Linked DNA regions of Homo sapiens. The protein of the gene in region 1 purifies or fractionates together with the protein of each later gene. This does not show direct contact. Each region holds a gene or a part of one and is shown in the gene's direction. Other genes may lie near its edges.

Evidence for each region.
Region 2: the proteins of DUSP1 (region 1) and ACP1 purify together in Homo sapiens (affinity purification with mass spectrometry, with the first as the bait; one large-scale study listed by BioGRID). This does not show direct contact.
Region 3: the proteins of DUSP1 (region 1) and IGF2BP2 purify together in Homo sapiens (affinity purification with mass spectrometry; one large-scale study listed by BioGRID and IntAct). This does not show direct contact.
Region 4: the proteins of DUSP1 (region 1) and MAPK10 purify together in Homo sapiens (affinity purification with western blotting, with the first as the bait; one study listed by BioGRID). This does not show direct contact.
Region 5: the proteins of DUSP1 (region 1) and ICMT purify together in Homo sapiens (affinity purification with mass spectrometry, with the first as the bait; one large-scale study listed by BioGRID). This does not show direct contact.
Region 6: the proteins of DUSP1 (region 1) and BLVRA purify together in Homo sapiens (affinity purification with mass spectrometry, with the first as the bait; one large-scale study listed by BioGRID). This does not show direct contact.
Region 7: the proteins of DUSP1 (region 1) and HDDC2 purify together in Homo sapiens (affinity purification with mass spectrometry, with the first as the bait; one large-scale study listed by BioGRID). This does not show direct contact.

The regions. Positions count from the first base shown.
Region 1 is NC_000005.10:172,768,396-172,772,450, reverse strand, and holds the start of DUSP1 (dual specificity protein phosphatase 1), read left to right. Parts: upstream 1-1,255; 5' UTR 1,256-1,498; coding exon 1,499-1,865; intron 1,866-2,144; coding exon 2,145-2,290; intron 2,291-2,656; coding exon 2,657-2,876; intron 2,877-3,318; coding exon 3,319-3,689; 3' UTR 3,690-4,055. UniProt on the Homo sapiens protein: Dual specificity phosphatase that dephosphorylates MAP kinase MAPK1/ERK2 on both 'Thr-183' and 'Tyr-185', regulating its activity during the meiotic cell cycle.
Region 2 is NC_000002.12:267,947-271,446, forward strand, and holds part of ACP1 (low molecular weight phosphotyrosine protein phosphatase), read left to right. Parts: intron 1-3,500. UniProt on the Homo sapiens protein: Acts on tyrosine phosphorylated proteins, low-MW aryl phosphates and natural and synthetic acyl phosphates with differences in substrate specificity between isoform 1 and isoform 2.
Region 3 is NC_000003.12:185,689,043-185,692,542, reverse strand, and holds part of IGF2BP2 (insulin-like growth factor 2 mRNA-binding protein 2), read left to right. Parts: intron 1-2,915; coding exon 2,916-3,188; intron 3,189-3,322; exon of another isoform or gene 3,323-3,435; intron 3,436-3,500.
Region 4 is NC_000004.12:86,101,554-86,105,053, reverse strand, and holds part of MAPK10 (mitogen-activated protein kinase 10), read left to right. Parts: intron 1-1,809; coding exon 1,810-1,868; intron 1,869-3,021; coding exon 3,022-3,160; intron 3,161-3,500. UniProt on the Homo sapiens protein: Serine/threonine-protein kinase involved in various processes such as neuronal proliferation, differentiation, migration and programmed cell death.
Region 5 is NC_000001.11:6,223,329-6,225,964, reverse strand, and holds part of ICMT (protein-S-isoprenylcysteine O-methyltransferase), read left to right. Parts: intron 1-702; coding exon 703-885; 3' UTR 886-2,636. UniProt on the Homo sapiens protein: Catalyzes the post-translational methylation of isoprenylated C-terminal cysteine residues.
Region 6 is NC_000007.14:43,789,680-43,793,179, forward strand, and holds part of BLVRA (biliverdin reductase A), read left to right. Parts: intron 1-1,569; coding exon 1,570-1,689; intron 1,690-3,035; coding exon 3,036-3,133; intron 3,134-3,500. UniProt on the Homo sapiens protein: Reduces the gamma-methene bridge of the open tetrapyrrole, biliverdin IXalpha, to bilirubin with the concomitant oxidation of a NADH or NADPH cofactor. Does not reduce bilirubin IXbeta.
Region 7 is NC_000006.12:125,274,850-125,277,967, reverse strand, and holds the end of HDDC2 (5'-deoxynucleotidase HDDC2), read left to right. Parts: intron 1-727; coding exon 728-866; exon of another isoform or gene 867-867; intron 868-1,724; coding exon 1,725-1,822; 3' UTR 1,823-2,618; downstream 2,619-3,118. UniProt on the Homo sapiens protein: Catalyzes the dephosphorylation of the nucleoside 5'-monophosphates deoxyadenosine monophosphate (dAMP), deoxycytidine monophosphate (dCMP), deoxyguanosine monophosphate (dGMP) and deoxythymidine monophosphate (dTMP).

The DNA.
Region 1 (4,055 bases):
AGGGGGCCGTCACTGGGACTCAGGGCACGGAGATCGCTGGGCGGGGCGGGGGTCTTCCCAAGTGTTGCGATCCAGGTCCTGGCAATCCGCCCACAATGGCCCGGGATTGGATTTTGCTTTCGGCCTATAACGGCCGCGACGACAGGGAGCGAGGGTTGTGGCCGGCTTCTGTTCCGGGTTGGAGGCCCCCAGCCCAGCGCTTAGTGGGCGCTCACTGTGTATACTGCCTATTTGTATAATAAAGAAAGGGATGGAGAAGCTCAGTCTGGAGCCAAGGTGACAGAAACGTGTCGGGCGGCCCCTGGGGGGCGCCGTCGAGTCGCGCTGCGGGTCGCCCCTCACCCCTCCAAACGCCAAACCCTGGAATCCACTGCGGGGCCTTGCGACCCCTCACCGGGATTTCAGCCCCCTGACCTGCCTCCCTTGGCTCCAAGTCTTCCGGGGGCCACAAGACTAGGAATAGCATTATTTCCCGGTGGGAGTTTGCTTGCTCACACTTTCATGGCAAATGTAGATATTTTAAAGCCACCTTAAAGAAAAGTCTGGGAAACAGGAAAGCATTGCCCTGAACCTCTCCGCCCCAACTCGCTCGAGTCGGTCTTGGTAGGGACGACTTTTCTATCGGCAGAGTTGTTCATTTTTCTCTAAACTTCATCTTAGGCGCCTATTTGCTGCCCCCACCCCAGTAGTGTGGTTCTGGGCAAGTCAGTCGCTTCGCCTGGGGAACCTCAGTTTCCCCGCCTGTTAGTGATGAGGAAATGAGGAAAAGGGGCACAAGAGTATGCAAAAGCACAGGAAGCCCCTTTCGGTTCAGGTCGGCGGCCGAGGGGCACGGGGAAGGGGACTCGGGGAGGGAGAGAGGGAGGAGCGGCGAGGCCAAGGCAGGTGGCACGTCGCCCGTTCTCCCGGCCGCTCGCATCCCGGAGGTCAGCCTCAGCTGGCAGCGAGCCCTCCTCCTCCCCGCTGGGCCTGGAGCGCGGCGCGGGTCCGGTCCCTGGGGACGCGCCAAGAGCAGGCCGGACAGCAGGGCGGGGGCCGGGCCGCGAGCCAGCGCGCGGCGAGCGGACCCAGCTCCGAGGCTGATGACGTCTCCCCCTCTGGCTCGGCGGCGCCTGGCCTGGCAGGGCGGGTGACGTCACCGCCCCGTCACGTGATCACCATTCAAACAAACACCCCCCCTCCCCCTGCGCGCGGGTCTGGCCCGCCCCGTCCCCCAGAGGCCGCATATAAACGCGCTCCCCGGGCCAGGCTCGCTGCGAAGGACATTTGGGCTGTGTGTGCGACGCGGGTCGGAGGGGCAGTCGGGGGAACCGCGAAGAAGCCGAGGAGCCCGGAGCCCCGCGTGACGCTCCTCTCTCAGTCCAAAAGCGGCTTTTGGTTCGGCGCAGAGAGACCCGGGGGTCTAGCTTTTCCTCGAAAAGCGCCGCCCTGCCCTTGGCCCCGAGAACAGACAAAGAGCACCGCAGGGCCGATCACGCTGGGGGCGCTGAGGCCGGCCATGGTCATGGAAGTGGGCACCCTGGACGCTGGAGGCCTGCGGGCGCTGCTGGGGGAGCGAGCGGCGCAATGCCTGCTGCTGGACTGCCGCTCCTTCTTCGCTTTCAACGCCGGCCACATCGCCGGCTCTGTCAACGTGCGCTTCAGCACCATCGTGCGGCGCCGGGCCAAGGGCGCCATGGGCCTGGAGCACATCGTGCCCAACGCCGAGCTCCGCGGCCGCCTGCTGGCCGGCGCCTACCACGCCGTGGTGTTGCTGGACGAGCGCAGCGCCGCCCTGGACGGCGCCAAGCGCGACGGCACCCTGGCCCTGGCGGCCGGCGCGCTCTGCCGCGAGGCGCGCGCCGCGCAAGTCTTCTTCCTCAAAGGTACGCCCTCGGGGAAGCTCGGGGCGGGCCGCACACCCCTGAGGTTTTGCCCGGTACCCCTGGCTCTCGGCTCCCGGGGGATCGCCCCACCTGCAGCGCGTGGGCGCTGGAGTACATTTATCTCTGGAACTTGTCATTGGCTTTGTTTGGCTCTGGAAACAAAGACTTGCCTGGGCCTTTCCGATGTAAACTTCCAGCCCTTGGTGGGTGGGGGAGTTGTATGAAGGTGCCGTGTCCCGGTGTCACTAATGGGGAAAAAAAATGTCTTTGTATTCCCAGGAGGATACGAAGCGTTTTCGGCTTCCTGCCCGGAGCTGTGCAGCAAACAGTCGACCCCCATGGGGCTCAGCCTTCCCCTGAGTACTAGCGTCCCTGACAGCGCGGAATCTGGGTGCAGTTCCTGCAGTACCCCACTCTACGATCAGGTTAGTAGGTGTCCCTGCCACAGGGAAGAAGTAAGAACTGGCAAAGGCATGGAAGAGTAGTGCCAGGGAGAATATAGAAAGTGACCTGCAGCATTATTTATAACGGAGGGGACACAGGGATATGATTTATTCCACAGTTAAGTGGTCTGACGGAGCCGAGTCTCCAATTGTAGGCTCTACGGAAATGAACTTGCTGGTCCTGCCCAGGCAAATGGGCTTAGTTCCCTATTTATTTATCCTCCAGCAACAGAACTGAGTTCACTCGGTATCTGAAATTGACTTTTCCAGCAGAAAGTTTTTGTGGGTATGGGCACTGGCCTTGGCTTTGAGCAAGCTTGATGAATGTTGGATATTTCTGGATTTCAGGGTGGCCCGGTGGAAATCCTGCCCTTTCTGTACCTGGGCAGTGCGTATCACGCTTCCCGCAAGGACATGCTGGATGCCTTGGGCATCACTGCCTTGATCAACGTCTCAGCCAATTGTCCCAACCATTTTGAGGGTCACTACCAGTACAAGAGCATCCCTGTGGAGGACAACCACAAGGCAGACATCAGCTCCTGGTTCAACGAGGCCATTGACTTCATAGGTAAATGGAATGGATGCCTGGGGCTTTTCTGCCTTTCTCTTCTCATTTTAGCCACTAAGCCCAACCTCTGTGGCAAGAGCTTGAAGTTTTCTGAGCCTTCTTCCACACATTCAGTATCAGTCTGGTGTGGGCAACATTCCTGTAAAATATGAATTTGATTCGATGTCCCACTTTACAGATTTGCAAAGTGGGGCTCACAAAGTTGAATTGACTGGTCTGAGATCTATCTGCTAAGTGGAAATCCCCAGTCTGAGTTTAAATCCTGTGCCATCCTTTGCACAGTGCCCACGTTGCCTCCATGAACAGTATCCATGTGATGGCATGTGGTGATGTTGACCATTTCTAGACAAGACACACATGACCTTTCTCAGATACACTGTACCTGGGCTTGGGGTGGTTCTCCTGAACTCTCAAGTAACCAGCCGCTCCTTTGGTTTTCCAGACTCCATCAAGAATGCTGGAGGAAGGGTGTTTGTCCACTGCCAGGCAGGCATTTCCCGGTCAGCCACCATCTGCCTTGCTTACCTTATGAGGACTAATCGAGTCAAGCTGGACGAGGCCTTTGAGTTTGTGAAGCAGAGGCGAAGCATCATCTCTCCCAACTTCAGCTTCATGGGCCAGCTGCTGCAGTTTGAGTCCCAGGTGCTGGCTCCGCACTGTTCGGCAGAGGCTGGGAGCCCCGCCATGGCTGTGCTCGACCGAGGCACCTCCACCACCACCGTGTTCAACTTCCCCGTCTCCATCCCTGTCCACTCCACGAACAGTGCGCTGAGCTACCTTCAGAGCCCCATTACGACCTCTCCCAGCTGCTGAAAGGCCACGGGAGGTGAGGCTCTTCACATCCCATTGGGACTCCATGCTCCTTGAGAGGAGAAATGCAATAACTCTGGGAGGGGCTCGAGAGGGCTGGTCCTTATTTATTTAACTTCACCCGAGTTCCTCTGGGTTTCTAAGCAGTTATGGTGATGACTTAGCGTCAAGACATTTGCTGAACTCAGCACATTCGGGACCAATATATAGTGGGTACATCAAGTCCATCTGACAAAATGGGGCAGAAGAGAAAGGACTCAGTGTGTGATCCGGTTTCTTTTTGCTCGCCCCTGTTTTTTGTAGAATCTCTTCATGCTTGACATACCTACCAGTATTATTCCCGACGACACATATACATATGAGAATATA
Region 2 (3,500 bases), on another chromosome or scaffold:
GTACTCTACTTTTAGATTTTTTCCAACTACTCAACAATGTAAAAATTATTCTTACCGCTGTGGGCTGTACATAAAGGCAGTGGACCATGAGCCGATTTTCAGACCCCTGTTTTAGGTCCAGATCTTGGGAGGCCATGTGAAGACTTGGGCTTACTCTGAATAAACATTGGAGGGTTTTGAGCAGAGGTGGGAAGTGATCAAATTTAAGTTTAAAAAAGAAGAGTTTCAGCTGTTGTTTTGAGATGAAACTGGAGGTGGAGCATGCCTTTACTGGTTGCATTCTGAGGGAATTTGAGCGGTAAATGGCATTTTACTTGGTAGCCATATAGAGGACAGTAAGAGTTGTATGCTTTTGAAATGTAAAAAACTTTGTTCATTCAAAGCATTTGTTTGGACCCTATTGAGATTGAAGTGTAGAAAAGCATCAGAGGTTTTTCATTGGTGAAGCTAATGATGGAAAATAATTGAGCTCCTTACTACAGCACAATTATGAAGGGTGCTTTATGTTTTTGCAATAGAGACTTATTAGTGAAGATGATGCAGGAGCCATGACCCAGCCAGCATGGTTGGTGGAGATAGCACATGCTGGTGGAGTCACTTTACTTCTGGGCTACACCCATACTGGGTGCTGGGTCTCTTACCAGGTATAGCAGACACAGCCCCACCCTCCCAGAGCCTATCTGCCTTTTATGAGTCTCCATCCTTGAATTGAAGATGCTGAAGAAGGGTATAAAATAGTCTGCCTAATTTGGAAAAGACAAACTTGAGACTTTACAGATTGAAACATTTTTTAAAGGCATTTGAAGATGGAATGTTCTGTTTTTAGAACTTGTTTGATAGGCGAAACCTGAAGTACATGCAGTGTTTCACTGATGACCGGGGTGCTCCATTTTTTCATAACAAAATTTGGTGGCATCAACTTTCGAAATCAACAGGGCAAGCTACTGCTAGCCTTTAGGACAGTTAATAATGCAAGTTTTCATATTGTTGTGGGGAAAGTAAGCTGTTATTTTACAGTTAAAGATAATTATTTGTAAACGTGTGGGGCTAGTCTTTATTATATTTTTAGATGCTGAGATACTAGGCATCTGTTGTTCTACAGATCCAAAATAATAATTGTCTTAATTTGGAATACAATGTTTGCTGTTAAAAATATTCCCAGGGTATATGGTGACAAGTAAAAGAGTTACACACCCATGGGAAGCCTTTCAATAATTAAAATAGTGCTGATGACAATACCTGTTTAGAAAACTAAACAAAATTTAGAATGTCGAAAGGAAAAACTTCACAACACAAATTAGCATATAGAGGGTATTCAAGGCTAATTTGTTGTCTTTCCCTTTATGGTTTGTAGGTAAGATTTTTTACTGCTGTGGAAACTACAGTCTCTGTGGGAAAAAAGTACGTAATATGCTTAGGTCTTACAATGTAGAAACTGAAGGCTGTAGTAAGGCAGTGAGTTGGTTTTCTGAACTAGGGAATTAGCTGTGTTTTACAACACTAGAAGATCCTCATTGTATTTGTTTATCATAAACAGAAGACCCTAATAGTGATAAAGAGTAAACTCTTAGTTAGTGCTGCCTATTCTCACAGTTCCTCTTTTTCGTATCTGTTTCCTAAATTCAGCTCCTAATGTCTGGACTCAGTGTGGTGCTTTGGCATTAAGGAGACTGGAAGGCCTCAGAGCAGCCCCAGAAGCAAGGTCGTAGAAACCATCATTTATCTTCCCCAGCGCAGATCATAGAAACTAGAACTCCTCTCCTGCAAAGCAAGCCATAAAACCTAGAAAGATCACTCTCTCCCTTTTGCCTTCTCTTGAAGACAGCATTTCAGAGGGGCCCTGCCTCATTCCTGGGGGAGGAAATGCTGTGGCCCTGCTGGGTTTCCCTCAGTCTGCTACCATTGGATCATTTCCTTTTGTCCAGTGCCATTTCTACACAGCTGTGCATTGGTCATCTAAGCATCAAAACCGTTTCCCTGGGTCTTTGGGTCTTCATTTCTGAAGGCTCTTGTTAACCTGTCTTTTGTTACAGGAGTATCTTCCATGACCTTTATGATGGGTGAGGAAAGCTGCCACACCTTTCCACTCTGACACTGTCTTGTATTTGCTCCTTCATACGAGCCTCTTACAAGGTCTCTCCAATTCAGTCATGTGCTCTTCTAGTGTTTCCTTAGCTGTGCCGGTAATTTTGGTAACTTGTAGGAAGGGTCTGTGTTTTAAACAACTTTCTGTCTTCAGGTTAGGGCACAGTGCTTGGCACATAGAGTTGGCATACAAAATATGTTTGTTGAATAAGTCATATTACCCTTTTCCATAGGACTTTCTATTTCTCCTCATAGTGGCTACGCAAAGTTCAAATGTTGGCCCAGTGTTTTAGGGCTCCTGTATACCAGCCCGTCAGTTTCCAGACACTGGCTCTCTGTACCTGAAGCATCGCAGCCTCACCTGCTTAGTGCCACAATCCCTCTGAGTTAAATGCCTTTCCCTTCCTCTGTCCATTAAGATCCTGATCATCCTTTTAATATCATCTCTAATCTTTCTTTTTTCTGGTAAGAAATTTTCTTATATCTTGTTTTTGCTTTGTAGCATCGTTCTTTTTCTGTGCTGCTGTAGTGTATTGTTTATCAGCATTCATTTTCCCACTTTTATTATAATAAATATAATAAATAAAGTGGAGATAGAGTTCAGCTGAATGGCCAGTGATTCAACCCATTGTGTCTCCCTCCGAAAACCCCAATAAAACCTCAGAGCACTATGGCTCTGAGGAGCTTCCTGGGTTGGCAGTGCTCTTTGAATATTGTCTCATGTTGATGACAGGAGAGTAAGGTGTCCCAGAGGACAGTGGAGCTACCTGTTAGGGAACCTCCCAGAATGTGCCCTATAGGTCACTTGCTTTGGCTGTTTTGTTTGTTTGTTTGTTTTTGTTTTTGTTGCTGTTACTATAATGAAATTGTAATGGTAAGTGTTCTGCTTTCCTGAGTTTGGGGAGTAATTCTAGGGAATTATCAAACCTGAGGGAGCCCTGGGGAACCTGGATTTCTCACTTGCTGGTCTAAAGTAAGGATGGCCCTGATGTCGACATCGTGGTCTGGAGAGTGGTGTCCCTGACCTTGGGCTGCTAATGCCTGGATCTGTATCCCTGGGCTCAGGGCTTTGCATGTGATCGCTCAGTAAATGTTGGTGTTGAATCGCTGTTTATGCTTAAATGCATGTTTGTGTGTTTGTGTATTGTTTTGTGAAACAGTAGTCATCCTTATGTGTGATATACTTGAAAATACATACAGTTGACCCTTCAGCCACAGGGGTTTGAACTTTGAAGGATTTATTCGAGGAATTTTTTTAATCAAGCACAGATGGAAAATACCGTGTTGTCTGAATGAGAAACCCATCTGTATGGAGGGCTGACTTTTCCTATACTTGGGCTCCACATTCTCAGGGGCCAACTATAGGACCTGAGTATGCACGTTTTGGTATACTGGGTAGGGGTGGGAGGGTGTCC
Region 3 (3,500 bases), on another chromosome or scaffold:
GCCACCTTTGACATATTGGTAGAGCTCCAGGGTGTTCCTGCCATCTTTGACATGTCAGTGGAGCTCCAGGACATTCACACCGGGATATTTGTGGATTGTGTAGAGACTTGAAAAATGTTGAGCCTTGGCATCAAAACCAAGATGGGAGCTGTGTCTTGACATGATCGGGAATAGAGGGCACCATACCTGTGACACTGTGTCTCCTAGACTCTGCTTTGCCAAACACTTGGGACCACTTTTACCTAGAGCTTCCTCCATGCACTGTGAAGAGGCAGCACAAGCCTATACCAAAACATCAATTTTGTGTGTGTAACATTAGGAGGGAATCCACCTCAGTGAGAGCAGCAGCCGAGAGAATTGTCTGAGAGTGGTTACTCAATAGCACCTGGTTTGGGTTCTTTTCTCCAATCCCCATCCTCTTTCCAGTGCCCATTCATTACTTCAGGGATGGTTAATTTTGAGCTTAGCTGTTAATGGACATGAGATCAAGTCTCTTAAAAAACAATGAGGCCAGGCATGGTGGCTCATGCCTGTAATCCCAGCATTTTGGGCAAGGCCGGAGGATTGCTTGAGCCCAGGAGTTTGAGACCAACCTGGACAACATAGGGAGACCCAGTCTCTACAAAAAAACAATTTAAAAATTAGCTGGGAATGGTGGCTTGCACCTGTAGTTCCAGCTACTTGGGAGGCTGAGGCAGGAGGATCACTTGAGCCCAGGATGGTAAGGCTGCAGTAAGCTGTGATTGCACCACTACCATCCAGCCTGGGCAACAGAGCAAGACCCTGCCTCTCAAAACAACAACAGCCGGATGTGGTGGCACATGCTTATAATCCCAGCTACTTGGGAGGGTGAGGATTACTTGAAGCCAGGAGTTTGAGACCAGCCTGGGCAAAATAATGAGACCCCCATCTTTAAAAGAACAACAAAAACAAGTTCCTTTTTTGTAGGAGGTCCTTAAAGTGCCTGTCAGGTCATTATAACTAGAATTATGGTCACATTTGGTCTTGCTTTATGGGTGTGGCATAACCTTGGCTATATATCCCAGGATTATAGTGTTCTTTTTCAACATACAAAGATATTTAACCCATTTTCATACTGCTAGTTTTCAAAATGTTAATTTTGCATTGAAAAAGATAATGGTTCAGGCCAGGCGTGGTGGCTCATGCCTGTAATCCCAGCCCTTTGGGAGGCCGAGGTGGGCAGATCACCTGAGGCTGGGAGATCGAGACCAGCCTGACCAACATGGAGAAACCCCATCTCTACTAAAAATACAAAATTAGCCAGGCGTGGTGGCGCATGCCTGTAATCCCAGCTACTCGGGAGGCTGAGGCAAGAGAATCACTTGAACTTGGGAGGCAGAGGTTGCAGTGAGCTGAGATCGCGCCATTGCACTCCAGCCTGGTCAATAAGGGCGAAACTCTGTCTCGAAAAAAATAAAAAAAAAGAAAAAGGTAATAGTTCATTTAGTGTTAACTTTACCTTGTACACATTTGTAAGTGGAGATACACCAACAACTCAACTCCACAGCCCTTATCTAGCTGCTGCTTGGGTGGACCTCTCTACATGATATTACTCTATTGCTTTTATTAAATTCAAAAGGTGCTGCTTTGTAATAAATTTACAAGTCCTAGACATTAACCTAGTAAAATTGGGTTAATGCTACTAAAAATATGTGAAAAGGATAGTGTATTTCGTGTGTCATTTTAAGAATATAATAGTGGTATATCATTTATCCCCTATCAAATTGATAAATATCTTTAAATAACAGCGCTCTGTGCATTTGAAGATTCAAGGACACAAATGCTCTCTCCTAAACTGCTATGGGATCATAAATGTTGAAACCATTCCAGGGGCCCACTGGGCAATAGTTAACAATTCTACTAGGAATTTGTCCTGTGTGCAAAGTTGTAGTTGCAAAGATGCCAATGGTGACAGTGTGTGTAACTGTAAAAGGTTGGATACAACAGATATCTAACTATAAAGGATCAGTTGCAAAAACTATGGTAAATCAATAGAATGTTAAACAGTCATTAAAAATTATACTGATACTGCAGTTGAGTCATGTGTAAATTATACTGAAAGGTACTTAGTGACATTGAAAAATGTTTTAGAATATTAACTGTTTTTTTAAAGGTTAGAACATAGTATGTACAATATTAACCCATTTTTATAAGCAATAATATGTTTATATTTAAGAAAGACAGTAAAGATAGTGGATTAGGATTTTATTTGCACTTACATATTTCTGAATTTTCAATAATATGTATGATGATTAAAATGAGAAAAAAATGAGTCATAATTTTATACTGATATTTATAAGAGTTTTTGATAAGGGGGAAATGGCCTTGAGTGGTGGAGAAACCAGGCTGTAATGTTGGATATGAAGCCTGACCAGGCTGATGCGTTGTGATTACTTGTTTAACTGTTAACCGTAAGCCCTGAGGGAGCAGAGATGGTGTCTGTCTTGCTCACCACTGTATGTTCAGTGCCTGGCATGGCACCATATAGGCACCTATTAAATGGGAGTGAATGAACCAGTCTTGCGGGAGGGTCTTTCTTTTTTTTTTTTTTTTTGAGACGGAGTCTCGCTCTGTCGCCCAGGCTGGAGTGCAGTGGCAGGATCTCGGCTCACTGCAAGCTCCGCCTCCCGGGTTCACGCCATTCTCCTGCCTCAGCCTCCCAAGTAGCTGGGACTACAGGCGCCCGCCACTACGCCCGGCTAATTTTTTGTATTTTTAGTAGAGACGGGGTTTCACCGTTTTAGCCGGGATGGTCTCGATCTCCTGACCTCGTGATCCACCCGCCTCGGCCTCCCAAAGTGCTGGGATTACAGGCGTGAGCCACCGCGCCCGGCCGGGAGGGTCTTTCTTGATGTTGGTTTCTGACGAAGCTCCCCTGTCCTGCTGCATTTCAGAGCCATGGAGAAGCTAAGCGGGCATCAGTTTGAGAACTACTCCTTCAAGATTTCCTACATCCCGGATGAAGAGGTGAGCTCCCCTTCGCCCCCTCAGCGAGCCCAGCGTGGGGACCACTCTTCCCGGGAGCAAGGCCACGCCCCTGGGGGCACTTCTCAGGCCAGACAGATTGATTTCCCGCTGCGGATCCTGGTCCCCACCCAGTTTGTTGGTGCCATCATCGGAAAGGAGGGCTTGACCATAAAGAACATCACTAAGCAGACCCAGTCCCGGTACGTGCCTGTGGGGCTTCCTTTGCTTCCTTCTGAGGGGTCCCCTGCGTGCTGGTGGGTCTCAGCCACTCTTAGGTCACAATTGCTTACATCAGCAGTGGGGGGCTGTGCTGTAAGAGACAGTGGCTTCTTTCAACAGGACTACTAACAGACTAACATCAAGCTGGGGGCTGTGACAAGCTTTCATGCTGAGAGGCTAAAAGTTCATAAAGAGGGTACTGATAACCTCACAGCCAGGACTGTTCCTGTAAGCGAACTAATGCTTATGGATGCATTGATTTCTACAAAAGCAGAGGTTTGGAGCTCTGCGGG
Region 4 (3,500 bases), on another chromosome or scaffold:
AGGAACTAGTGGGGCCTGACAAACATAGATTCACATCTGTGTGTCTCAAGATGCTGGAATAAAAGAACTGAGATTCCTGTCTGGAAACTGTTGGATTAAAATGGAAATTTTATAGCTGTGATAATCTCCTTCTACAGATGCCTTTTTAAAATTGACTATTGGTAGGAATTAGAATTTACAAGAGAGCAAATGAAGGATAGAAGAGAAATTCTCGAAGAGTAAAAAGTAATAAAACAAGGTCATAGGAAAAGGGAAAATAAGAACATACAGTAGGGAATAGATCTTGATAAATTACCTTTTAAAACAATAAATCTTGATTTATTTAAAATTGTAATGCTATTTTCTATATTTTTTAAATTATCTAGATTATTTGTTCACTAAGTGATCTGGGTTAGCATTTTTCCATTTTTAAGTAGTGTTCATGTGAATGTTTGTGTGGATGTAATGTGTGCTGTATACACAGTCTCTAATATTTTTGTTTGAACAAATAGCAAAATGAAATAAATTACTTTATGAGATTGATAAAGTCCTAGAGAAACAGACCCACTGTAGATGTTCCAATGAAAGGTGTACTTCATAGTCATTTTTCAACACTCACTAGCACTGAGTACACAGAATAACATGGCACTTTAATCACAAGTTATAAAGATAATTTTAAAACAATTTTATTTCTATATGAATATTCCACACTGCAAGGTTGCTTTAGAAGAGATGATCTTGTATTTTTAAAACTATATTACAACATTGCCATATATATGTATACTAGAAAATATTGGATGGTACTGTGGTTATTTTTTGTCAATAATTTCTCAATCAGTTAAAACTACGTGAGACATAAAACATTCCATAGAATTGAGTCAATTTCTCAGGTGTTTAAACTAATTTTGTTTTATGTTTATTACTCCACATGTCTTTATATCATTTATAAAGTTTACTGAAATTCATTGATTGATGCTTTGAAGCTGCTTAAATCTTGACCTTGTACTTATCTAATTTTTATAAAATAGTTGCAACTATCTTGTGAGTATAAGATTTTTATATATTTTTATATTCATTTCCTACTGGCACGTTAGTACCAAATATTTAGCTGGAAGAACATTTTGAGTTATTGATGTATGTACTCTACTGAGAAATGTGACAAGGGGTTTTTACAAAATTTGCTTATACTAGAAGGTAGATTTTTTTACTAGCTGATATATAAAATAAAGCAGGAAACAAAAAGCTTTTAACTGAATTTAAATAACTTTAAAATAATTTTCTATTAAATCCATCATTGATATCATCTAGAATGCACCTTTCCCCACACATATTATTGGAGCATTAGTTTAATATTTGAGTGTGAGGTAGAAGTAAAAAAAAATATAAAGTAACAACACAAAAAAATCATGAAGTAGAACACAACTTTGTTCATTTGGAGAAGTATCCCCTTGCTAAGTCTCACTGAGTGTTTTACTGCCACCTCTCTCCTCACATGGCATTTCTTCCTTTTTTGTTTAATCCCCCGAAGGCCCATATTCTGCCACGAGGAATCACACTTGAAAGCAGTGTAACAATTATGCATCTCTCTGACTCTTGCTTCTGCCCAAGAATTGAGCTTTTTAGCTGCATTATTAACCTGAAGACAGATCATCTGTTCTTTCTGAGCATACTTTTCTGTGTCCTCTGAGACAGCTCAAGACATTTTTCCAACTTCTCCATTTCTGCCATAGCACTAGTGAGTGACTTTGAGTTGAAATACAATTTAAAAATAATACATTCTCTCTCTTTTTTCTTTCTCTCGTTTCCTCTGTCCCTTCCACTCTCTTTCAGATTATTAGTTTATTAAATGTCTTCACACCCCAGAAAACGCTGGAGGAGTTCCAAGATGTGTAAGTAACAAAACTCATGAAGGAAGGGAGAGCACAGCACTCAGATAGCCCAAGGGAAAATCACACACCACACACACACACACACACACACACACACACACACACACACAGAGTTGAAATCCCTTATACTGCTCAAAGAGAGGTAAGAGGTGGGGTCAAATGAAAGGGGTCCAGTGATATGTAAAGAAGATTCTGTTTGTGGGGTTACTTCCTGGAAAGACATTCTGCCTCCTTTTGGCCTTGTGGCTTTATATACTTTGTTGTTCCATGCTCTTGGTCACTCAGGGAAGGCTTATTTATTTATATTTATTAATAGATTCCACAAACTTTCTACAATGAGTTAATTTACCTGAAGAAATAGTAATAAGGCCAGGCATGGTGGCTCACACCTGTAATTCCAGCACTTTGGGAGGCCGAGGCAGGTGGATCACAAAGTCAGGAGATCAAGACCATGCTGGCCAACATGGTGAAACCCCACCTCTACTAAAAATACAAAAATTATCCAGGTGTGGTGGCATGCACCTGTAGTCCCAGCTATTCAGGAGGCTGAGGCAGGAGAATTGCTTGAACCCGGGAGACGGAGGTTGCAGTGAGCTGAGATCGTACCACTGCACTCCAGCCTGGGTGACGGAGCGAGACTCCGTCTCAAAACAAACAAACAAAAAGAAATAGTAATAAAAGGGACGTGAAAATTATCTTTATTCTTTCTATCTTTATAGTGTCATTGATTTTGTGCAAAGTCTACCCAGTAGTGACAACAGATGGAGGAGAGGAAGTGATTCCCTAGCACCTTGTCTTTAATACAGATACATTGAATTTAATGGAAGAAGCTGTCCTTAATTTTTTTCTTATTTGAAATTATAATATTCACAAAAGAGTTGAGGGAATACAGGGGAAAGTGAAAGCAAAATTAAGGTAACAAATCTGTGGACATGAACCAGACATTAATAAATGCTTTTTCTACTAGCAACCTTTTGGTAGGGTTCGTATAGCTAACACACATGCAATACCTGGAAATGCTCAGTCTTGATTAAGTCAAAGGCAGAGCTAAGAAGTTCAGAAGACTTACAGAGTTAGGAGAGCATTCTGACTAAATCAAAGGACTTCATAGATCTTGTGATCTGGAACTAACACTGTGGATTCACCCTTCTAGTTACTTAGTAATGGAACTGATGGATGCCAACTTATGTCAAGTGATTCAGATGGAATTAGACCATGAGCGAATGTCTTACCTGCTGTACCAAATGTTGTGTGGCATTAAGCACCTCCATTCTGCTGGAATTATTCACAGGGTAAGAACACCTTCTCTAGGATTACAATTCAAATGCTTTAAGAGGAAGAGTAACTGTAGATTATTTTCTTTATACGGGGGGCATTGGTCAAATATAATATACTTCCTCATTTCTTTGATACTAGAATTAGCACCTAGTTCACTAATTGTAGAAGGAAATTCTAGTTATATTGTAGTTGAGTTTGTTCAATGTTATGTTTTGGCTCATTGAGATGCAGCTTCTTAGAAGCCTCATGCTTTCAGCTCCTTGATTGGCAGAAGTCATATGTGCAACTGAAATAAGAAAATTCATTTCCATAGATGTTTCTGGCAGCATAAAGACAGCTTCCCTGATCTGTTCT
Region 5 (2,636 bases), on another chromosome or scaffold:
GAGAATCACTTGAGCCCAAGCAGTTAAGGCTGCAGTGAGCCATGATCACGCCACTGCACTCCACGTGACAGAGTGACAATCTGTCTCGGGGGAAAAAAAAGAGGCAAAGTGGGCACAGCGTGGGGAGGGCAGGAGACTGGGGAAGTGGGCGAAGTGCTGCTCTTCTGGGGTTGGAAACCCAGACTCAGGGGGTGGGGTTCAGTCTCTGGAGCTCTCTGAGCGTGGAGGTAATCTGCTGGAAGGGGCATTTCGGAAGCTGAGTTTTGTGGCACTGTATCTCGTGCTGAAGCAGAGGCTGTGGGTTTAGGAGGCAGAGGCCCAGGCAGCTGTGGTGTAAGCGAATGCATTTGTGGTGGGAGGGTCCTGGGCAGGAAGGCAGCGTGCATGGGACCTCATGTTGGGGAGCTCACACCTGGAGGTGGGGGGCATTGCTGTCACCCCAAGCTGAGGGTTGAAATCCAAGAGGTTGATCTTGTGATTTACAGATCTCTCTCATGTAAGAGGAGCAACAGGAAAGCACGTGAGAAAGGCCTGCAGCACTGAGTGCTCAGGGCTAAGGTGACAGTACTGCTCCCAGAGACCCTGACGGTCTCAGCAGGGCATGGGCACAGAAATCCTCTGGGTATTAGAGACAGACGCCTACCAAAGCACAGGGCGTCATCCCACGGTCACCCTGATGAGCCTGGTGTCTCCCTCTGTTAGGTGATGCTGTGTAACCCCATCTGCGGCGTCAGCTATGCCCTGACAGTGTGGCGATTCTTCCGCGATCGAACAGAAGAAGAAGAAATCTCACTAATTCACTTTTTTGGAGAGGAGTACCTGGAGTATAAGAAGAGGGTGCCCACGGGCCTGCCTTTCATAAAGGGGGTCAAGGTGGACCTGTGACGGGCAGTGGCCCCGGTGACCTTGGGGCCTCCGACCCTGTGCAGCCTGGGACAAAACTGTTTCCGGTTGGCCGCTGCCACATGGATTTTCTTAATCGTTTTATGTCATTAGTCACTCTTCTGGAATGTCACTCAAGACCAAGCGGTCAGAAGGCCTGAGGACCCAAGGCCCCACTGGAGCAGTCTGTCCTTATGCCGAATCAAGGCGGAACATGGGTGAAAGACGAGTAAGGGGCAAATCACAGCAATATTCCACAGCGCCCTCCAGAGTTACCTGGGGAGGACCGAGGCCACACGCCACTGCCCCCGAGGCCAGAGTGTAAGTAAAGGATAACCAGGACTCGCTGGGAGAGATGGACTCTGTCCTCAGCAACACTCCACAGCAGAAAGGGGTAGCAGGTACCCCTTCTTATCAGCGGTAAAAATGCATTTACAACCTTTCATTTAACCGAAAAACACAGACCGCTTTAACCTCTTTATTTCTGTCCCCCACTGCATGAACATCTATACAATTTTAAAAATACTTCCTCATAGGATGCTTTGGCCCTTCATCTATTTAATCATAGCTACATACCTATTTTTTATAAGTAGCAGTACACATTCAAAGGGGTATTCCTAGCTCAATGCTTGGTGTTCTAGTTCAACTTTTATCCTGCAGCAAGTAAGCCTAGATAACTCTACACGATTTGGCTGAGTGGCTTTGTGTGACCGTGGCCCCAGGCCAAGGGGATCATGGCCCTGGCTGGCTTTCCCGGGGGTCTCAGCTCCTGTTGTCAGTGATAGGCGGCTCAAAGGAGCATCAGTTTCTTTTGATCCAAGAAGTGCTTACTGAATGCCTGCCCTGTGCGTGGCCTTAAACATTGAGAAGTGCTGCTCTCCGTTTATTTGGGATTTGATTCTCATTTTACCATAGCTTATATTCTCAATTTCAATGCCAGTCTCAGAACTCTTGTTTTCTGTGTTCTGTTCTCAAAATTACATTGTCCCTCATGTCATTTCAAACTGTTTTCCAAAGGGATTTGAGCATATACAACTACAAATCCAAGCAGATTGACTCTCAAAAATAATCTTAAATACTGCAAATAGTCCCAACTAAGATTCAGTCAGTATGTTTGTTTTGCAAGTTTGGGAGAGTAAGTTGGCTTTGAGTCACACATCGAAGCTTTAAGAGGTGAGACGCTGGCTTCATTCTGGACTAGACAGGAACTTGGCCTCAGCGTGAGATCCTGCCATGCAGTGTTGCGGTGGCACTGAAGAAGTGTGAATGTGAAGGCGGCGTCGGCGCGGGGCCAGAGCACCACTCTGCTGCCCCACCACGCGGCCTGTGAGGAGCCACTAAACCTTTCCGTGCCTAGACCTCCCCATCTGTGGAATGGGGTCAATACCACCTACCTCACAGGGGTGTTGTGAGGACTGAGAAGAACAATGTCAAATGTTTTTAATACTCAGATGTGGGAGCGACATCAATGAAATCTGTACTGTATGAAAGCTACACAAAAATGGGCAGACATTTGGTTAATTGTGCCAGATACCTAAAATGTATGTTCAGAAAAGCATTTTATCAACTCAGAAATATGACTTATTTCTAGATTTCATGGCTTAATGAATTTTTTCATTGTTATATATACCAAAGAGGCTTACGGGTTCATTGATTGGTTTGAAAACCAGACAGACGGCCGGGCGCGGTGGCTCACGCCTGTAATCCCAGCAATTTGGGAGGCCAAGGCGGGTGGATCATGAGGTCAGGCGTTC
Region 6 (3,500 bases), on another chromosome or scaffold:
TCACACCCCTGCATGACAGCCCTGCCAGTACTCACACTGTTTCCCTCTTCACATACCCTTCCCTTCCTGACCTACCTGCTAAGTTCTACCTCCTCCCCAGGAAGCTTTTCTGGTGTATTCCTTTCCCACCCTGAGTCTCCATCTCCTACTTCCAAGCACCACATTTCTCCTGGTAGTCTTGTGGTAGTGGTATGTACGTGTGTGTGTGTGTGTGTGTGTGTGTGTCTTCCTCTAGCTGACTGAGCTCATTGAAAGGCGATGATTTTAATTTGTTCTCCATGATTTCTCCTACAGCGCCTAGTACATAATAGGCAAACAATAAGTATTGCTGAAATTGAGCAATTTAGTTTGGGTGGCCCCATTAAAGAAACCTAGCATAATACTCTTTGGGAGCTAAATTTTCCTGAATGCTTTCTGCCTGCTGCAGCTCAGCTGGAGCTCTGAGCGGGCTGAGGGCCTTCTGCTTGCTAGCTGTCCCACATTCCCCCATGACTGCCACCCTTAGAGGGCTACTCTCCTGCCCCAGCCGCTGCACTGGGAGGTGTACGGACTGCTGGGGCTTTGGCTCTTCGAAGACTGCAGCTCCCCCATGCTCTAGAAGAGTCAGAAGGCCTTGGGTTCCCCTCCTGCTTCTGCTCCTGGTTAGTCAAGGCTATCACTGCCTATTATGTGCTAGGCATTATAGGAGAAATCATGGAGAACGAATTCCTCACCTTCCAATGAGCTCAGTCGGCCAGAGGGAGGAAGACACACACACACACACAAACACACACACAGACACACACACACACAAACATGTGTGCGTACATACTACTGGGCTTCGTTAGCTTAGCTATAAAGTAGCTCGAAGTCGCATGCCAGTTTGCACCCTAAATGTGTTAACGTATTGGATTTGGATTAGGTTTGGTAGTCACAATGTTTGGCCAAGTGCTTGGAACTGGAAGTGACCATAGAGATCACTTCTCATGAGATAAAAGTAGATTGTTCCTTTTATTTTTATGTTATTTTATTTTTGAGGAGTCTTGCTCTGTCACCCAGGCTGGAGTGCTGTGGTGCAATCTCGGCTCACTGCAACCTCCATCTCCCGGATTCAAGTGATTCTCCTGCCTCAGCCTCCCAGGTAGCTGGGATTACAGGCGCCCACCACCACATTTGGCTAACTTTTGTATTTTTTGTAGATACAGGTTTTCACCATGTTGGCCAGGCTGGTCTTGAACTCCTGACCTCAAGTGATCCACCCACCTCGGCCTCCCAAAGTGCTGGGATTATAGGCTTGAGCCACCGCGCCCAGCTGTTTCTTTTGTTTTGGAGATGAAGTAATTCAAGACTCTCCCAGGTCATACACGCTGTGAATGGTACTGTTGGCACTCAATGCCAGATCCCCTGACTTGAACTCTGAGGCTATTTTTCTCACTCCACAATGGAAAATAGCCTGGAAGTGGGAGAGAAGAAACTCATTTCTTCATTTCTGGCAGCAGATCACCAGGACCTGTCGGGAGGAGGGGAGAAGGATGGTGCTCCTTTCTTCTGTCTACCATTGAGTTCCATTTCTCTGTTACTCTGAAATAGAAGGGAGCTCGGGAGCATTGATGGAGTCCAGCAGATTTCTTTGGAGGATGCTCTTTCCAGCCAAGAGGTGGAGGTCGCCTATATCTGCAGTGAGAGCTCCAGCCATGAGGACTACATCAGGTGGGTTTTCCACACAGGCAGTCCTTGCCTTACACAGCAGTGCAGTACTGCAAAAATGAGCAAGCAAGCTAAAACACCCTGCAAAGGAGTCAGAAGAGCCAGTGAGAAAATTACAATTGCTCTGTGACCAATCACAGAAGTGTCAAAACATTAAGAAATTCTTATTGCTGGTTATAAATATATAAGGAAGTGAAAAATAGTAAAATTAATATTTAGTATGTGTAATTTGAAACATTAGAAACATTCAGAATTAAAGTGTTTTATTTCTCTGTAAAAACCCATCGAGAGTAGTTTTCAACAGTAGTGGCCTCCTTCTTCTCACCAGACAGTTTAGGATGTGGAGCCGGCATCCTTGGCAAATTATCATACTCCCTTCTCAGTTTGGATCAGCTTCCAACGTTTTCTCCTTTGTGCTTTCAATGTCATAAAATAACGGTTGAGTTCCTTTAACCCTCAGGACCTGGCAGCTAACAGGGAAGTGCCAGCTGCCTTCCTCAGTCTAGCTTCCTTCTAGGTTCTTACAGCTGCTCCCACCATGCTGTTTCCCACGGGTAAGATGCTTCCTCTTTATCAGTCTAGCTCTAGAGTAGACAAAAACACCTCTCCTTGGCTTTCCTTAACCTTTTCTGGCACCAGAGTGTATTTCCTTAAGAAAAGTGATTCTGACATAAGTCCCATGCTTATAAATATTTGTACTCTGGTATCCACAGAATGAAATCTGAACTGCTGAGCACAGAATTGTAGGTCCTTCACAGTCAGGCCCCCAGCTACTTTTCCAACGTTATTATCCTCCACGGCCTGTAGTCCACTCCCCTGCCACACTGAAGTTTGCCGATTGAACAAAGCCCCACAAATGCCCAAGCCCCTGCATACGCTGCTCACAGTGAAATATACTCACATGTTGCACCTGGAAAATGTCTGCTCATACTTTGAGACCCAGTTCATAGGTCCTTAGTGAAATCTTTTCAGACTGCCTCAGGCAAAGCTAGCCGCTGTGGGTTTTGTAGCCTTTATAGCTACCATGTGGTGATAGGAAATTTATTTGTTAATGTGTCTTTATTTCTCCTCCACAGTAATTGGTAAATAGTACTTAGTTGAATAAATGAATGGTTGAATGTTCAAATTAACACATAACCAGAAAGTTGATCTGTCACAGGATAGTAGAAAACAATGTGGGATACAGTTCTTCCTCCATATCCCGTGGCACTGACTCCTACCCCCAGTCATGACACATTCACACACAGAAACTCTCATGCCTTTATAACATTCTGTTCTCTATTATGCAGAGCATTTCAGTGAAGCTTATTCGAAGTGTTCTTTCTCTGTATTTGTCTCGTTTACCAAAGGCAGTTCCTTAATGCTGGCAAGCACGTCCTTGTGGAATACCCCATGACACTGTCATTGGCGGCCGCTCAGGAACTGTGGGAGCTGGCTGAGCAGAAAGGTAATGTATCTTACCAAGAGTTTCTGCCTCCAGGATTTCTGTGATATCATCTTTATGCCTTTAAAACTTAACCCCATTTCAGATATCTCCTCCTCCTGGCTACACTGGCACTGTGGGCTCCCAACTGCCTCCTCACCCCCACACTGTAAACACAGATAGTGGAGGGCAGAAGGATGGGTGGGAATTTGCAAACTTTTGGTCAAAGCTTATCAGCTTATTTTACTCACTCTAAGGAAAAAATATGAATTAGTTTTCACCTATGCTTATGTCATGATATTATTTTGGCTTTATTCATGTGATACTTATATTGCTAAATGCTGGGATATCCTAAAAATGCTCAAATCAGAGAAACTGATTGTCTTATTTG
Region 7 (3,118 bases), on another chromosome or scaffold:
CATCATTCTATAAGAAGCAGAACTCCTGGAGCTTCTTGTTCCAAGTCTGCACTGCAGAGGGAGGGACCAGTGGGAAGGGAAAGGTAAAAAAACTGCTCCCCCCACCACATTCACCACCTCCCACCTGCAACACATGCACATACCGGTGCATGTAAAATCCTCAGATCTTGGCTCTATCCTCAATAGTCTTAACTCAGAGGGACTTAATTAAATCTACCCTATGTGGAAAGTAAGCACAGAGATTCCCAGGTAAAGTGGTAACCAAAAGTAAATGATAAAGCTAGAAATACACTTAGAAATGACAAGGAAACCTGACATGAAATGGAGAGGGAAATACAGGTTTGAGAGGCATAAGACGAAATATCAGCTTGATGTTAAAAATATCTAAACTACTTAGGTAGATTAAAGAACAATGGTCTTAAAATGAAGACACGGTATTAAACAGGAAGAAAAGATCTTGAAAGTACCTAAGATGAACATACAAGATTTCCATGGCTTCTGGTAGAATACTTAGAATGGAGAGCACATCTTTCTTGTATAGAGTCCTGGTGTTAGGCTGTGAAATTACAGAAGTGTCTCTGATGGATTTCTAAACAGTAGAGAAATGGGGCCGATACAGAATGTACTTGTAGCTGTCACTCTGATTTCGGGTACCAGAGTCAGAATTTTCCCAGGATACCCTATTATGCAGCGCTAATCATGCTGCTTTAATTGTCCCTTTACTTAGGAGTACGAGACCCAATCTAGTGCAGAAGCCAAATTTGTGAAGCAGCTAGACCAATGTGAAATGATTCTTCAAGCATCTGAATATGAAGACCTTGAACACAAACCTGGGAGACTGCAAGACTTCTATGATTCCACAGCAGGTACTCAACACCATTTTCAACAAGAGTCCATTTTAGTTTGGCTTACTCAGTGTAGTGACTAATGTTAATATTAGGGAAACCCACTGTTGGTACCTTCATCTGACCCTTTCATGTGGAGCATCTAAAAAGAAAGGGAAGGAAACATTCGGGTAAGAGGCTGAGGATAGGAAATAAATGGAATAGAGTTTAATGTGGAATGAACAGTAAGCAACAACAGACACAGGCAAGAAAAGACGGTGAGAGAAGAGATGTTGGGTTGAACAGTCCCCCATGCTAGCCGTCATGGACATACAATAGCTTAGAGCTTGGTTGCTACCAAAGCAGAAATCTGGGGAGGTCTGAGGAGCAGGGATGACAGCACAGATCAGCCAATTGAAGTGTAGAGGTGTTTACAAGAGAGACACCTGCATCCTTGTTTACATCATGAGCCAGCCTAGCCCCTCTGATCTTCCTCCTTGTCTTTTCATATATAGGTGCTTCATTCTCCTTACTTAATTGCAGGTTTGGAATGGGCAGAGATTGTCTTCAGCTTTCTGGGCTCTCACACCTGAGTTTTCCCATAGTTCCTGGTAGAGGCACTGAGGAGCCTGGTGAAGTTTCCCCTACCTCTGCCTAATTGATGATTCCTTGCCTGAGTCTCATCCTTATTCTCAGTTGCACCTGGGGTGACAGAGCGTAAATGCCAAGTGGTCCCCTTCAGCCCCTTCCCAGGACCTGGAATCTCTTTCTGCTTTGGAATGAAGTGTGGGTCAGATCGTAGACTAGAGCCCCCAGTGAACCCTGGGATCAAGCTGGGGAAATGAATATACTCTCTTGTCAATATGGGAATGTATTTTTCCCTGTTCTTTTGCTTTGCAGGAAAATTCAATCACCCTGAGATAGTCCAGCTTGTTTCTGAACTTGAGGCAGAAAGAAGCACTAACATAGCTGCAGCTGCCAGTGAGCCACACTCCTGAGACACTCTCTAAATTGCTGCACTCCTGTAACAAACATTATTTTTCCATTTCATTGTATTGTGTTTTGCCATTGTTGGTCTGTTGATTTCCCTAGATGTGAGTCTGTTTGTTTTCAATTGTCTGAACTTCAGCAAGAAATGTGATACAACTTGGGCACTAAAAGAAGCCACAGAACAGGAAGCGGTCATGAAAGTGCCATGGATGAACACTGGAGGTGGCAGTGCCTGTTTATGAACTAAATAAATAAATATTAAACACCTAAAATATTAGAATATTTATTGGAGATTTAAAATCATCTTATTCTGACTTAATTACCGATATCCCCGAAGGCTAGGTTCATTGAATAATAGAAAATTTCATTATGATTGCTTTTAAGAACAGATTCTTCAGCTGATTTAGTGATAAGAATCCAGAAAAGAAAATGTACTAGTGATGTATTCTCTCCCCAGATGAAATTGCTGCCTTATTCAGATTTACTCTCTTGAGCCAGATTTTGAATTTCACTGCAGACTGCTTCAGACTTCTAATCATAGGCTTGTAAACCTACTAATAGGCTCTGCCCCTCTTCCCAATACTTTTTGTCATTTAGAGATATAAACCGGGGCATATAAAAATGCAACTTGTATTCCTTTGTATATTTTTCCCTGTCTGACTTATAAATCTTGAGACCTTTATTGTAAAAGCATGTATCATCAGGTGAGAAATATAAATAGGAACTGGGGTCATTGAGCCTCAGGTAGGGAATATATCAACCCGATTTCTTCCTCTCTTTTCCCTTTTATAGGATAAATAATCCACCCTGTCTGCCTTTACATTGAATAGTGCAAAAAAGAATACGATTTCTGCAAACCTGCCCAGTGTTTTGGTGTGGAGCAATGATGCTTGTCCCTTTAATTCAAATGTCACTTTCCATTTGAAGGCCTTCGAGGCTGGCATGGTGAAAATTCTAGGCAGTGTTTCTTTGGAAACTCTTTGCGGTATCCATGGATACCCAATCTGCAGGAAGCAAGGTGCATGATCTTTTCAGAAGCAACACACATATGTATGTGTAATTGCTCTGTATCAAAAAGAAGAAAGAGGGTAAAGTCCATTACTGGATATATGGTTAGTAGGAAAACAACTCCATCTATTAGGATTGTGGAGTTTTTCCCTTGGCATGAAAACATACACACAAAATAACCCCAGATAAAGTTCAAGTATTTATAACCAGAAGGTGTTCTGTGGCCCTGCAGTTTTATTTTCAATGTTTTGTCTACCATAATTTTCATAAATAGCTAACAAAACAATTCACAGAGA